2 linked regions of the Homo sapiens genome follow. The protein of the gene in region 1 purifies or fractionates together with the protein of each later gene. This does not show direct contact. Each region holds a gene or a part of one and is shown in the gene's direction. Other genes may lie near its edges.

Region 1 (3,500 bases):
CAGTGAGCCGAGATCATGTGACTGCACTCCAGTCTGAGCAACAGAGACCCTATCTCAAAAAAACAAAAAATTTAAGTGGTTACCAGGGAATAGAGAGTGAATGCTAATAGGTACGAGGTTTCTTTCTGGGGTGATGAAAATTCCTTAAATTACATTACCATGATAGTTGTACAGTTCTATGAATATACTAAAAACAATTGAATTATCCACTTTAAATGAGTACATTTTATGGTATGTGAACTATATCCCTATAAAGATGTTGGTTTTTTGTTTTTTTTTAAAAAAGCCAACCCTAGGCACTGTGCCTGGGATGTTTTCTGTTTTTCCTATTCTGGTACTTGCAGTTGCTATCTGCTTCATTCTAGACCAGCATCATGTTGGCATCTAGTTTGTTCAAAGATACAAGAGAAAAAAATGAAGCTTTTATATTATAGGATAATTTTGGGTTTTGGTGTGTTTGAAGGATTCCCTAGGAAGCAGGTGCCAACACATTAATGTTTCTGCTTAAACTTTTCAAGTTTCTCAAAGCCTATATCAGGAATGGAGTTTGGTGTTACATCCCTGAAGGGTGTTGACTTGATTCTTAGTTATCCCTGCAGATTGAGGGAGAAGGATCTTCTTCCAGCCATGAGGTGCTTACAATCTTGATTCTATTCTGAAACACTGTCTGCCCAAATAAATAAACAAATCCCCACACCTGCTAAGGCTCAGGGGTGATGATGTGAGCCACAATCCTAGATACTGTTTTCTCTAGGCATGCACCTAAACTGAATGCATTTTCCCTTGTATTTAGGTGTCAGAATGTGTCTGCTTTACCAAAAGGCTTCGGAGTTCAAGAATTAAAAATACTGCAGTCAGATTTACTATTTGAACAGAGCCGCAGTGCGGTGCAGGCAAAAAGGGCTGATAGCCCAGGTCGACTTGTTCCTTGTGGGGCAGGTAAGAGATCCAGGTTAGACCTGCCCTGGAGTAACTGCTCCCCTGACTGAGAGTGGCCCCAGAGGGTCGGCATCCTCCCAGCCTAGGAAGGTAGTTCACCACTCTAGTGGCCGGTAGTGTGGGCTTTAGAGACACCCATAGTGGGTCACGTTTATGCTCTTGTGACCCCCGGCATGTTATTTACCCTCCCTTGGCCTCAATTTCTTTGTCTTCAGATTAGAAGAATATCATTTATCAGGGTTATTGGGAAGATTCAGTGAGAAATTCTGTTTAATGCATTTACTCTGTGCCCAGCAAATAATAAATGCTCAGTGATTGTTAGCTATCATAATAATAATGAATTATGAACCACTTAGACTACTGTACCCTGGAGGCCAAGCATCCAATAGCAGTCATTGTCTGTGACATCATATCCAGCTCTCATGGGTCTGTAGAGTCAGAGAAATATTTTTATTAAAATACTTCTGACTTTCACAAGAAATTGAGCAGTTTTAACCCTAGAATCTTATCTTTTCATAGCCATCAGCTGGAGTGCAGTTCCTGAGCAGCCTTTGGATGTTACTGCCAATGGCTTTCCACAGGGAACAACAAAGAAAACAATTGGAAGCCTTCAGGCAAGGTACAGCATATTGGGGCAGGAGGAGATGGTGGCTGTGAACTCACACTCTACCACTATCTAATTCTAGAACATTTTTATTACCCCAAAAAGAACAACCATACCCATTAGCAGTCACTACCTATCCCTCCCTCTCCTCATCCCTTGGAAACCTCTAATTTACTTAATTTACTTCCTGTCTCCGTGGATTTGTCTAGTCTGGACATTTTCTATCATTGGAATCCTACAGTATATGACCTTTTGTATCTGGCTTCTTTCACTTAGCATAGTGTTTTGGAGGTACATCCTGAGGTAGCTGTATCAGTACTTCATTACTATTCATGACTTGAATAATATCCCATTGTGTGGATATACCACATTTTGTTTGCCATTCGTTCATGAATGGACGTTTGGGTTGTTTCACTCTTTGGCTATTGTGAATAGTGCTGCTGTGTAGAACTATGAACATTTCATGTACCACTTTTTGCATGGCCATATGTTTTCAATTTTCTTGGGTATACCTAGGAGTAGTGTTACTGGGTCATATGGTAATTGTTATGTTTAACTTTTTTGAGGAACTGCTAAACTGTTTTCCATAGCAGCTGTACCATTTTACGTTCTACCAACAATGTATTAGAGTTCCAATTATCCTGAATCCTTTACAACACTTGTTATTGTCTTTTTTATTGTAGTCATTCTAGTGGGTATGAAATGGTATCTCATTACAGTCTTTTTTTTTTTTTTTTGAGATAGAGTCTTGCTCTGTCACCTGGGCTGGAGTTCAGTGGCGTAATCTTGGCTCACTGCAACCTCCGCCCCTGGGGTTCAAGCGATTCTCCTGCCTCAGCCTTCCTAGTAGCTGGGACTGTAGGCATGTTCTACCACACCGGCTAATTCTTGTATTTTTAGTAGAGAGGGGTTTCGCCATGTTGGCCAGGCTGGTCTCAAACTCCTGACCTCAAGTGATCCACCCGCCTCAACCTCCCAAAATGCTGGGATTACAGGTGAGAGCCATCTCACCCGGCCTCATTACAGTTTTTATTTGCATTTACATTTCCCTAATGACAAACGGTGTTGAGCATCTTTTTATGTACTTATTAGCCATTTATCTCTCTACAGCCTCGCAAGTAGCTGGGACTACAGATGCCCGCCACCACGCCCAGCTAATTTTTTTTTGCATTTTTAGTAGAGACGGGGTTTCACTATGTTGGCCAGGCTGGTCTTGAATTCCTGACCTTGTGATCTGCCCACCTCAGCCTCCCAAAGTACTGGAATTACAGGCGTGAGCCACCATGTGCTGCCTATAACTGGTAGTTTTTGAGTGTTCACTTATTGAGGTCTTCTTACATATATTTCAGCAAGTTTTATAGCTTTATATAAATCTTTCACATCTTGTATTAGATTTATTCCTTAAATGTATGTTAGTTATCTGTTTCTATGTAACAGATTACCCCCAAAATAACAGCTTAAAACAACAATATACATTTATTATTTCACATAGTTATGTGGGTCTGGAATTGAGGAGCTTAGCTAAGTAATTAGCTTAGCTCAGCAATTTATGAAATTGCAGTCCATTATGGCAGCCAGGGCTGCAGTCATCTGAAGACTTGACGGGGGCTCAAGGATCCTGTTCCAAAATGGTTACCTTGCATGGCTGACAGATCAGTGTCAGCTGTTGGCAGGAGGCTTCAGTTCCTTATAACAAGGACCTCTCCACAAGGCTACCAGAGTATTCAGCTTCACGACTCAGTGGCTGGCTCCCCACAGAACAGGCAATCCAAGAAAGCAAAGCAGAAGCCACAGTGTCTTTTATGACCTAGCCTCAGAAGCCAGAGCCTATCTGTAATATCTTAATGGTTATTCAGATCAGCCCTATTACGTATGGGAGGGGATTGCTAAGGGGCATGAATACCAGGAGGCAAGAATCACTGGGGACCATTCTGGAGTTTGGCTATCACAGATGCTA
Region 2 (3,500 bases), on another chromosome or scaffold:
AGGAGTGGGAGCCCAGACAGGTGTGGGGCAGATGCTGCAGGCACTGAGTATCTGACTCAGCGGTGAGAACTTGCATGGGGCATTCGTGAGCTCCAAAGTAGTCTCATCATGCTTGAACCTCAAACATGCAGGGGAGGATGAAGCGTTTGTATATGGCTGTATTCTGATATGTTAATATTATCCTTTATTCCAGAAATAGGATTTTATATGCAGATGTATGCATCTATTTATTTATAGGAAAAGCTTAGCAGTGACAGCTAGAACATCAGTTCTTCTATACACCGCTTTCTCCTAACGCTTTTTCTGGTATCTAGGACTCACTTGAATGAAAATCCTGTTTCCATTGGTTATTCAGTCTTCTGCTTCTGAGAGCAGCTGCATGATGTCCTGTTGGTTATCACAAAGCCCTGTATTTTAGTAGAGGAATTTATGGAATATCATTCTCCTTGACCTGAGCCCAATTTTAATAACCAGCTTTAAAGTATACAAGCATATAATTAAATGAAAATAGCTAATGTAGGCTTTCTAGAGATAATTGTAATAATTGAAATTATGGAAAATAAAGTGAAAAAACTGCAGAGGTTTTACACTTGCTTTTTTTTCACTGGAATCCTGTTTTATTTTCCTTAACGAAAATGTGGGCTAGCATATGATATTTAGGCACATGGTTTACTAAACTTTTTTTGCATTTTTTAAAAAATGATTGTCTTTTTGACTGAAGAACTTAAGAAACTGTCATCGTGAATCAATGAAACTTACTAAGAATGGGATCCATTTGCAGCATCCTATAGCTTCTCTAAAATTCTGCCCCTAGGGACCCATGATATTATTGAGATTTATTATTAGTGAGATCACTTTGTGGGCATATCATTTTATCTTTGCGGTAGCTAGTTCCCCTTGGATGGTACCTGGAATAAGCATATTTGATAGTAAATTCTTTAAGTAAAGTCAAATGAGATCAACATGTCACTAAATACTTTCATTGTATATTGTGCTTTAAGATACATCTTTCCTTTGTAGCAGCTCAGTACCTATTTATTAGACGTGAAGCTTTATATTTCTTTCTTTAGATTAGTAATCTTTTTATACATATTGATAGGCCTTCTCTAATTCCAAGTTCAGATACAACCTATTGACAGTGTTTAGAGTTGCTTTATTCAGCAGTACACATTGCGAAGCTGCTCCCTGCTATAATACAGTGTCATTGTTGATGTAAGCACTTTCAAGGGTTCTTTTTTGTGTTTATACAGGCATGCCAGAATCACTCTTGTACTGCTCCCTGCACGATCCAGTCAGCCCCTGCCCGGCTGGTTATGTAACAAACAAGGTGTGTTTTCAGAAGGGTCTCCAAGGCTGCAGCTTTGTCCCAGGAAGTCAGCCTATGGTGTATCCCTCAGATGCTCAGATCCCACTGTCTGGGATGATCCCTTATACCTTTTCCTTATTTCGATAATTATAGTGGGATGGGATGGTTTATAAGACTTAGAGTAGGGCTGCCTAAGGATGAGGTTAAGATGAAGAACACTGTATCCTCAGCATTTTCATTGTTGCAAAAAAATTTGAGGGTAGAGGAGGGTCAAATACATGCCAAAAAAAGAAATTGCTATGATAGGGGAAAACGATAGTCTTTCGGCGCCATGCTTTGTTGGATTTTTAACAACTTCAGGAAGAGTGGGGAAAGTTGCTGATGAGTATTATCACATGTATAACTATATATAGTAGAATCTCAATATAATATTGTCTGCTGGGTCTACAGCCAGAGATTTTGTCTAGTGAAGAACAGTATCAAAAGCACCTCATTAAAAGTGTTAGGCTGAGAGGTGGCCCCATTGGCATTATCCCTGAGGACAGCATTCTGGCAAAGCTTCAGTGTGTACTGCTACTTTACAAACGCAAATACTTTTCCTGCACTCACTTTATTAATGTCAGCAATATTTATTAATTGTGCCCCTCAGAACACTGTTTTTACTCATTCTCCTGTTTTAAGTTTCTATTTATTTTGTAGTTTGAATTCTAGAGAAAATACTTTGGCTGGGTATGGTGGCTCATGCATGTAATCCCAGCACTTTGGTAGGCCAAGGTGGGTAGATGGCTTGAGCCTCAGGAGTTCGAGATCAGCCTGTCCAACATGGCAAAACCCCATCTCTACTACAGATACAAAAATTAGCCAGGTGTGGTGGCACACGCCTATAATCCCAGCTACTTGGGAGGTGGAGGCAAGAGAATCACTTGAACCTGGGAGGCAGAGGTGGCAGTGAGCCAAAGTCGCACCAGTGCATTGCATTCTAGCCTGGGTGATAGAGCGAGACTCTGTCTCAAAAAAAAAAAAAAATACTTTGACTTCCATTTTCTACCCAAATTGTAAGGGAGAGAGGAATCATTTAACCAGTAATTCTGATGCCTTAGTATAAAATAAAACGACTATATGTTGGCCTGCCATCTATGTCCTTGTTGATCTGAGAAGAGGGATCTGTAGGGTAACCAAAGATAGAATTTTTTTTTCCCTTTTTTTAACTTTTATTTTTGTTTCGGGGGTACGTGTAAACATTGTTACATAGGTAAATTTGTGTCATGGGGGTTTGTTGTACAGATTATTTCATCACTGAGGTATTAAGCCTAGTACCCAATAGTTACCTTTTATCCTTCTCTCCCTCCTTTCACCCTTCACTCACAAGTAGACCCCAGTGTCTGTTGTTCCCTTCTTTGTGTCCATGTGTTCTCATCATTTAGCCCCCACTTATAAGTGAGAACATGTGGTATTTGATTTTCTGTTCCTGCATTTGTTTGCTAGGGACAATGGCCTCCAGTTCCATCTATGTTCCTGCAAAAGACGTGACCTCATTCTTTTTTATGGCTGTATAATATCCCATGGTATATATGTACCACATTTTCTTTATCCAATCTATCATTGATGGACATTTAGGTTGATTGCATGTCTTTGCTATTGTGAATAGTGCTGCAATGTACATTTGCATGCATGTGTCCTTATGGCGGAATGATTTATATTGCTCTGGGTATATGCCCAGTAACGGGATTGCTGGGTTGAATGGTAGTTTTGCTTTTAGCTCAAAGATAGAATATTACTAATATATACTCTCTTGAACTAGGAGATTTAAGTCTTTAATTCTATATCTAACTCAGTCTAGTAAACACTAGATATTAAAAATGTATAGGGCCCTAGACTGTGCTTTTGGGATACATACATGAATTGGGATACTCTAGTCAGACAAATAAAGAATGGTGTAATAAGTGCTATCATTTCTATAAAGAAATAAATACAAATTGATGTAAGAGCATAGAGGAGTGAGTGATCGATTATGTCCAGGAGGTTTGGAGATCAGATTAATATGTGAACTCAGTGTCTCAATGGACACGTAGTATTTTGCCAGGCAAAGAAGTAGAAGTTCCAGCACCTAGAAATAATAAATACTTGAGGTGATGGATACTTAAATACTCTGACATGATTATTACACTTGCCCTATATGTAAGATGTCTCACAT

What was found. Proteins that work in one complex are often made in the same cells at the same time.
Region 2: the proteins of ADAT1 (region 1) and QTRT2 fractionate together in Homo sapiens (co-fractionation; one large-scale study listed by BioGRID). This does not show direct contact.

Annotation. Positions count from the first base shown.
Region 1 is NC_000016.10:75,606,282-75,609,781, reverse strand, and holds part of ADAT1 (tRNA-specific adenosine deaminase 1), read left to right. Parts: intron 1-793; coding exon 794-939; intron 940-1,458; coding exon 1,459-1,558; intron 1,559-3,500. UniProt on the Homo sapiens protein: Specifically deaminates adenosine-37 to inosine in tRNA-Ala.
Region 2 is NC_000003.12:114,066,737-114,070,236, forward strand, and holds part of QTRT2 (queuine tRNA-ribosyltransferase accessory subunit 2), read left to right. Parts: intron 1-1,250; coding exon 1,251-1,327; intron 1,328-3,500. UniProt on the Homo sapiens protein: Non-catalytic subunit of the queuine tRNA-ribosyltransferase (TGT) that catalyzes the base-exchange of a guanine (G) residue with queuine (Q) at position 34 (anticodon wobble position) in tRNAs with GU(N) anticodons (tRNA-Asp, -Asn, -His and -Tyr), resulting in the hypermodified nucleoside queuosine (7-(((4,5-cis-dihydroxy-2-cyclopenten-1-yl)amino)methyl)-7-deazaguanosine).